Homo sapiens: one gene and its partner. The protein of the gene in region 1 interacts with the protein of each later gene in a pairwise test. Each region holds a gene or a part of one and is shown on either strand. Other genes may lie near its edges.

Evidence for each region.
Region 2: the proteins of GLIS1 (region 1) and SOX3 come close enough for resonance energy transfer, tested with the Homo sapiens proteins (one large-scale study listed by BioGRID).

What each region holds. Positions count from the first base shown.
Region 1 is NC_000001.11:53,592,665-53,596,469, forward strand, and holds part of GLIS1 (zinc finger protein GLIS1), read right to left. Parts: intron 2,327-3,805; coding exon 1,444-2,326; intron 1-1,443. UniProt on the Homo sapiens protein: Acts both as a repressor and an activator of transcription. Binds to the consensus sequence 5'-GACCACCCAC-3'. By controlling the expression of genes involved in cell differentiation inhibits the lineage commitment of multipotent cells.
Region 2 is NC_000023.11:140,502,401-140,506,601, forward strand, and holds SOX3 (transcription factor SOX-3), read right to left. Parts: upstream 2,670-4,201; 5' UTR 2,661-2,669; coding exon 1,320-2,660; 3' UTR 585-1,319; downstream 1-584. UniProt on the Homo sapiens protein: Transcription factor required during the formation of the hypothalamo-pituitary axis. May function as a switch in neuronal development.

The DNA of each region.
Region 1 (3,805 bases):
TCTCAGCCCAAAGGCACAAGATAAAGTCAAAGTCTCAGCCTGTCCAATGCACTCTCCCCACCACTGCTCCACACACCAGAATGCTAACCACAAGCTCCCTCCTCCTGCCTCCCCTTGGCACAGGCCATTCACTGCTGCTCACTTGTTTACAAAGCAAACTCTTTCTCCTCCTTCAAGACCCAGCCTCCTGAAGCTGCAGAAGCAGATCCTGTCCGACGCCCAGCTCCCAGCTCCACAGGTAGGTGGGGCCCAAGGGCAAGCACCTTGCCCCAGGAGGACGGAGTTTATGCTGCTGATTGCCAATGTGTCCTGCCTCCTTCCTGGCCCCTACAATGTCACCCTGGGCTCTGAATGGGGACACTATGCCCCTTCCCAGACCAAGTGCTCCATGAGTGGGTGTCCAATGACAGTGTTTGACACTTGCACAAGTCCAAGTGTGAAACAGCTTGACTTTAGCTATGGCACCAGCCCCAGCACACCAGCCATGCTGCTGTCCTGATGGCTGGGCGGGCTGGGCAGTGGCCCTGGTGGCCCATGCTTCTCAACACCAAGCACACCCTGAGGTCCAGCTCTGCCGTTTCTGGGCAGGCACCTCTCCTAGTGGGCTGGCTGTGCCTCGGAGGTAGCACAGCAGTTAGGCTGAGTGTATCAGGGAGTGCTCCTAGCCTCTGATACAGTATTCCCCACAGACGGGGCAGAAATGACCTGTCACAGAAATGATCCATCACAAGGGCTGGAGGCCTGAGTACTCACAGTTAATATGCGCGTGTGTGTGCACGCGTGCATGCATGTGTGTGTGCACGTGCGCATGTACACATAATGCTAGTGCCAGAAACCTGTCTCAACTCCAGGAAGAACGCTACTGGTACTACCCAGGGCCTTAGCTAGTAACCCTGGGCCCCAGCCCAAACCCTGCCCTGGGGACCTGCAGCTCTCGAGCCGGGTGCCTGTTAGGCCCCACTGTTCCTTGGTGGAAGCCAAGGCTGTAGGCAGCACTAGAAGGCCCAGGGAACCTCACTGGGATGGGTGGTGGTGAGGGCCCAGCGCTGGAGGAGAGTATGTTCTCCACATCTCATTTGGCCACCAGCAGATGGGACATGGAGCACAAACACATGAAAGAAGAGGCTGGCCACGCCTGTTTTTCCAATCGCATGTGCACACAGCCCCGGGCCCTGTGGCGTGCTAAGATATATCTAATGCCTCAGGGTGGGGGACTGGGCACCTAGTGAGTATGAGGGCCCCTCTGCCACGGTTCCCAGTGACAGGGGCACTGACCGTCTTGACCAGGGGCCACATCCACAGCATGGGTCCTTTCCTCCTCAACCACAGGGATCTCAGCCAGCCCAGAGGACGGAGTCCCAGGCGGCCTCTCCTGGGGCACTGGGGTGAGTGCTGCTCTGCCAGAGGGGCTGGGGTGAGGCCTGGCGGCCGGTGGGAACTCACCATGCACTTGTTGGGCTTCTCGCCCGAGTGCACTCGCATGTGGATGAGCAGCTTGTAGCGGGCGTTGAAGGGCTTGTAGCGGCGCACGCAGCCAGCCCAGAAGCAGGTGAAGTCCTCGCCCTTGCGCTGGTCGATGTGGCTCTTCTCGATGTGCCGCACCAGCTCCTCCTGCTGCTCATAGGCTGCACAGCAGTCCACCCAGCGGCACGCCTGCCGCCCGGCCACCACCCTGCCTGCCAGGCCCAGCCCCAGGCCTCCAAGGCTTGGGCCAGGCGGCAACTGAGACAGGGGATAGGGGGGCGGCAGGCCCTGCTGGTGAGGCCCAAAGAGCTCTGAAAACTCATCCGCGGGTTCCTGCTTCAGGAAGCTCGCCTTCCGGCAGGCTTCAAGTTGCAAGCTGCCCTCATGGCTGTCCGTCGATGCAGGGCCAGGCCGGGCCCGCTTGGAAGGGCCCCCCAGATCTCCCGTCAGAGGGGGGCTCCGGAGTCCATTTACACAGGTGACCAGAGACGTCTGGGAGGAGCGGATGATGGAGGTGACGTCGGAGGAGGCACAGGGTGAGGAGGAGGCTGGGGAGGTGGGGGGTAGGCCCAAGACGCAGCACCGCTTCAGGCTGCCCTCGGGGAGGTGGGTCTCGGGCTGGAGGCCCAGGCCAGAGCTGGGTTCGCTGCCCAGAAGGTAGCAGGAAGGCGCAGGGGTGGCGAGGCTTCGGCCCGGGAGGTCCAGGTCTGGGTGCAGGCCAGTGGCCAGCGGGCCCCGACAGTGGGCAGACAGGGATGTGCGGGCCTCTGCCATGGCTTGGTAGTCGGGCAAGGACTCCTGTTTGATGTGTTGTGTGGTTGGGAGGCTGCCGTTCACATACGTGGCCTGGGGTCTAGGTGACCTGGAAGACAGTGCCCAGAGAGGTCATGAGAGGCTGGGCTCGCCACAGAGGGAAGGCTCAGGTGGGGGCAGACAGGGAAGCTGAGGATCAAGGGATGGACAAGCCCAGGGCAGGAGGCAGAGGCTGAGGGCTAGAGGCAGAGAAAGAGCACCTACAGACTGGTTGTCTGGAAAACAAGCAGAGTGTAAAGGAAAATGGGGAGAGAGAGGAAGAGAAGGGCTGGGGAGGGAAAGAAGAGGCAGGAGGCCAGGCACAATGGCTCATGCCTATAATCCCAGCACTTTGGGAAGGCAAGGCAAGAGGACTGCTTGAGTCCAGGAGTGTTCACGACCAGCTTGGGCTACATAGTGAGACTCCATCTCTACAAAAAAATTTACAAATTAGCCAGGTGTGGTGGTGTGCACCTGTAGTCCCAGCTACTCGGGAGGCTGAGGTAGGAGGATTGCTTGAGCCCAGGAGGTTGAGGCTGCAGGGAGCCAAGGTCATAACATGCACTCCAGGGTGAATGTGGTGAGAACACCAGGAAGGAGGACCTTGCATCGTTTTACCAAAGCTCAGCACCCCCACCCAGCCCTGGATGCCACGCCATCCTGCTTCCCAGGGGGCTGCCCTGCTCCCTCTCCGTGGCCTTCTAGTGAGTTCTCCAGGAAGAAGGCTGAGGCTGGCATTTTGAGGAACACCCAGGTCCAGGGTATATTAAATTCCACTTACATGTCCTTTAAATCTTTCTTAATTTTTGTAATCTAGCTTAACTTCTACAAATGCTAATTGTATGACACTTCGCCCCAAGCAGCCTGGCCTTTCCACTGTTAATGTCAGTGCATGGGGGAGTCTGAAGTGCAGTCCTGGTGGGGGTGTCTCAGGAGGAACTGAGGAAAAGCTTCTGAGGGGTCCCAGGGTTTCAGGCCCTCACAATGTGACTGCATGAAACTGCGATTTTGGGGAAAAGCCATGGGGCAGGCCAGGCAGGGCAGCCCATGGGAGCACGTGGGTTTGAGATCAGGCTCAGCCACATCCAGCCGTGCAAACGTGGGCAAGGTCCTTTGCCATCCTGGGTCTCTCTCCTCCTCTGGGACATCAGGAGGATCCTCCCCATGAGAGCGAGGGTGGTGTATGTGGGCACAGCTGGGGTTTGCCAGGTGGCTGTCTTCACCACATAGGTGGTACACAGGTGCCCAGAGGGCCTCTCCCACATGTGGAACATTCCCTCCACCACTGCGCAGGAGGCCAGGCTTAAATAACACAAGGGGATTCCTGCACTGAAGCTTCCACCATTCTGAGTGGGGGGACCAGGTAAGGTGCAGAGAGAGACGGAAGGGCCTACCTGTCACCAGAGCACTCTGAAAAGGGGAAAGGTCAGGAAAGTGAGGCAGGGCTGAGAGTTAGGACACCCCCCTGGCTGGCTAGGCAGAACAGGGAGCCTGGTGCTATGCCTGAAGTCTGGCTAGGACACCCCACGCCACCTCATCCCATCTGAAC
Region 2 (4,201 bases), on another chromosome or scaffold:
TTTTAATACCAAATCTTCCAGCGCTGAATGTTGACTCCGGCGGTTCAGCTACCAGGGTTGAAACGTATTTGTTTCCTGCTGGGGATCCCTGTAACCATTTATTTTTAATAGGATCATCGAGATTTCCGAAGGGTTTTCGTTTTGTAAATATTTCAGCTAGGCTCAAATGTCTTCCCGCCCCAGTGCACAAAGGTAAAAGTGCCCCGTTTTTGGTCGGTTTCAGCGGCCGCGCCTTTCCAGCCCCGCCTCGCGTGGCTGCGGCAGCAGACACTTTCAGCAGACGCTCACTGCGATCAACAAGTGCGCGGCCGCGGGCTCTGCGCATTAGCTACTACTGTGTGCCCGCTCTCGGGAGACGCTCCTGGAAGACTCGGAACTCTGTTCCGAGTTTCAGTTGAGAATATTGGAAGCTGGTGTATGGTGGATCACCAGTAGTTAAAAGGAAACCATTTCAGATTATGCTTGCCTCCCCCCAGGTCCCACCCCGCCCCTAGGATGGGATCTCAGTTGTAAAACCGAGTGTTGGTTCCTCCCCAACCTGCAAAAAAGTTTCAGGGCCGCAAAATTATCAGGACTCCATCATGTTGGTTATAAAATTTATTGATCTCATTTAGGAATTAAGAGTAAAAGCTTGAAAACCCTGAAACAAAGTAGCCCCTCCCCACTACCCAAACGAAATCTGAACACATTAGCGCGAAGAAATATCAAACAGATCACGGCAGAAATCACCAACTCAACATGATTGGACAGAAGCTGTCCCGCGGCCAGGGGCGGCGAGGCGGGAGACACACGCACACCTGGCTATAAATTAACATTGGCTTTAGCTGCCGCGCTGCTTGGAGCGGTCAGCGCCCCAAAAAACCACGAGGAAAACAGACGCGACACGACTGGGGGCGTAGGCGTTGCAGTTCTCCAGCTGGCCTCACCCGATACTATGTTTCTCCCATTCACTCCTTGGCTAACTGCAAACTAACAAGACAACATTTTCAAATGTAACAGAATAACCCTGGAACTCAGGAGGAGGAGTGGGGGCTGTTTTTTCTTTGCAAATAACACAGCGATTCCCAGCCTACAAAGGTGAAAGGAGCAGCGGCGTGGGGCAAGAGAGCTCTCTAGAAGTCCCATTTTCGCTGCTCCTGACTTATTTTTGCTTTTGTACAAAACCCGACAGCTACAGCAAAACTTTCAGCCCTCCCCATCATCGGTACAAGGCAACAGTCCCAGGCAAGCAAAGCTAAACAAGGCGTCCCAACTTGGGGGTGCGGGGCGGGAGTGGGGGTGGGGGTGGGGAACAAGGGTGGACGAGCGCAGGCCGGTGCTCAGATGTGGGTCAGCGGCACCGTTCCGTTGACTGCAGTCCCGGCGCCCTGGTAGTGCTGGTGCACGCCGTGCAGGCGACCGCCGGGCAGCGGAGAGGCGGCGTCGGCCGCGTCCCCGCCGGGTGGCAGGTACATGCTGATCATGTCGCGCAGGTCGCCGAGGCACGCGCGCTGAGAGTGCGATGCGATGGCGGGCGGCGGCGAGCTGGGCTCAGACTTCACTACCGAGCCCATGGGGCCCAGGCTCATGGCGGCTGCGGCCGCAGCTGCGGCCGCGGCGGTGGCGGGCTGCTGCCCGTAGGCGGCGGCCGCGGCTGCTGTGGCTGAGGGCGCCATGCCCCCGTAGCCCGAGGCGGCGGCGGCCGCGGCAGCGACGTTCATGTAGCTCTGAGCGCCGGGCGGCATCATTGGGCTGTACTGCAGGCCGGCCATGTCGTAGCGGTGCATCGGCGGCAGCGCGGGCGGCGGCGGCGGGCTGCTCATGCTCGGGGGCTGCGCGTAGCCCAGCTGCTCCTGCACCAGCGAGTACGCGCCGTTGGCCCAGCCGTTCACGTGCGTGTACGTGTCCAGGCGCTGGCCCACGCCCACCGGACTGCTGGCGGCAGCGGCTGCGGCCGCGGCAGCGGCGGCGGCGGCCGCGGCACCGGGAGGCAGGAGGCCGCTGGGCAGGGAGTACTTATCTTTCTTGAGCAGCGTCTTGGTCTTGCGGCGCGGTCGGTACTTGTAGTCCGGATACTCCTTCATGTGCACGGCGCGAAGTCGCTTGGCCTCGTCGATGAATGGTCGCTTCTCGGCGTCGGTCAGCAGTTTCCAGTCGGCGCCCAAGCGCTTGCTGATCTCAGAATTGTGCATCTTGGGGTTCTCCAGGGCCATTTTGCGCCGCTGCCCGCGGGACCATACCATGAAGGCGTTCATGGGCCGTTTCACACGGTCCTGGTCTGTACCCCCGCCACCTCCGCTCGCACCACCGCTGCTGCCGCCGCCCGAGTTCGCGCCGCCGGCTGCGTTCGCACTACTCTTGCCTGCGCCTCCCGGGGCTGCGGGGCCGCCGGTGCCCGCCGCTTGTGTGGGTGTCCCTACGGGGTTCTTGAGTTCAGTCTCCAGAAGGCTGTACATTGCCGGGGCGGGAAGAAGGTGCGCCAGCGTGGCGGGAGGAGAAGGCGCTCCCGGGGCTGGAGCGGCCACGGTGAAAAGGCCCTGGGACTCCGTCGGAGCGGAGCTTGGGGGCCTGTGGGCCAGCGAGTCCGGCGGGAAGGGTAGGCTTATCAAAATGCTCCGCGCCAAATCAGCAGGAACCCGCGGGCTTCTCGCACCTGATGAGTTCTCTCGAACAGGTCGCATTCACAGTCTGCCTGGGCTCTAGCTGGGCCCCTTATATACCTGCTCGGATTCCCCGGGGTTGGGGCTTGGTCCGCCCCTCGCAACCCGGAGGACCCGTGATTGACAGGTTCGCAGTGATGCGCCCTGGCCAATCATTACCGAGCCCCCGTTCGGCCTGGCTGGAAAAAAAAAAGTTCGGGGAGCCCTTTCGTTCACCCCACGCCCCTCTTTGGCCTAGTGACGTGGTAAGAGTTACTTAGGAGGCGGGAGTCCACGAGGCCCACTCAGAGGCCACCAATTAGGGTTTCAAAAAGTTTGAAAGAACGAAACCTGAGGAGGTGACGGGGGGAGGGGGGAGGGGGCACGCAAGCAGATTGGGGGGAGGGGGCAGAGGGGCGCCTTCGGAATTTAGAAAACAACTTTGCAACCCTGTCAAGGCAGACCGGCGCCCCATCCCCCGGCCAGCCCGCAAAGCTTCCCGTTGTCTGCACGGAGGTTTTCTGGCCGCTTCTGCTGCCAGCGCTAGGAACGCAGGGCACCACCAGCTACCCAGGCCGGCTTAGGGACTCCAGGCTCATTGGAAGTGCTCCTGGCTGCGTCTCCAAGAAGCTCTCCCTGGAATTGGCCGCTGGTTGTCCAGATCTTTCTCTAGGAGGGCCAGTGCGTCCAGGACGCAGCGTGGGTCAGGGGCCCGGGCATGGGAGACAGGCTTCAGGACTGCGGGGTGCATTCGGCTGTGAGGCTCTTGGGGGTTTGCAGGAGGGCGGGCAAGCAGTCAGTCGCCCGTCTCCTGAGCCTGTCGGAGGCGCTCGCACAAGGTGGTGTGGAAAGTATGTGTGGGACGTAGGGGGTGAACTGGCCTCCGCTCTCTCGATCCTGGCCCCCGCTTAGCGGCCCCTTTTTGTCTCTGCTCTGTGGCCATTTCGGTTTTTCCAGTCCGATGCCCCTGAGGGGGAGGGTCGGGCCCCTTGGAAAATCCGTTTTCATGGCAACACGGAGCCTCTCAGAGTGAAAGAAAAGTTTCTTGGAGGGGGGAACGTTGGCCGGAGCGGAGCCGAGGCCGTCCTCCGGGCGAACCGCCGGGCCCCCTCCACTGCCCCCGCACCTGCCGGGACCGCTGAGCGCTACTCTGGGCGCGCAGCCTCGCCGCCTCCCCCGGGAGCAGGCTCTGCTAACGGATTCCGTCCGTCTCTTTTATTGTTTTAGAGACTTCCTGAGATTCGGAGCGGGACATTCACTTGCTTGTTGGGTTATCTGCCAAAGACTAGCGGCGCGGGAACTCTGGCTGCGGGGAGAGGAAACCCCGATAATCGCCACTGCCAGCTGAAGCGAGTGGCACAGCGTTTGAAACTCTCGGAGCAGCCCGAGGTAGCGAGTGGGAATGAGAAGCCATCCCGGCAGATTTGGCAGAAACTAAAATAAGGTGTCCATACGGTGTGGGGTCTCGCCCCCCCATCATCCCTAGCCCCGTGGAAAGGTGGGGAACTAAACGGAAAGCATAATCTTAAGTGGGTGGGGGGCGCATGGGGGAATCCCAGGTTTCTAGCGTCTTAGCGTTAATG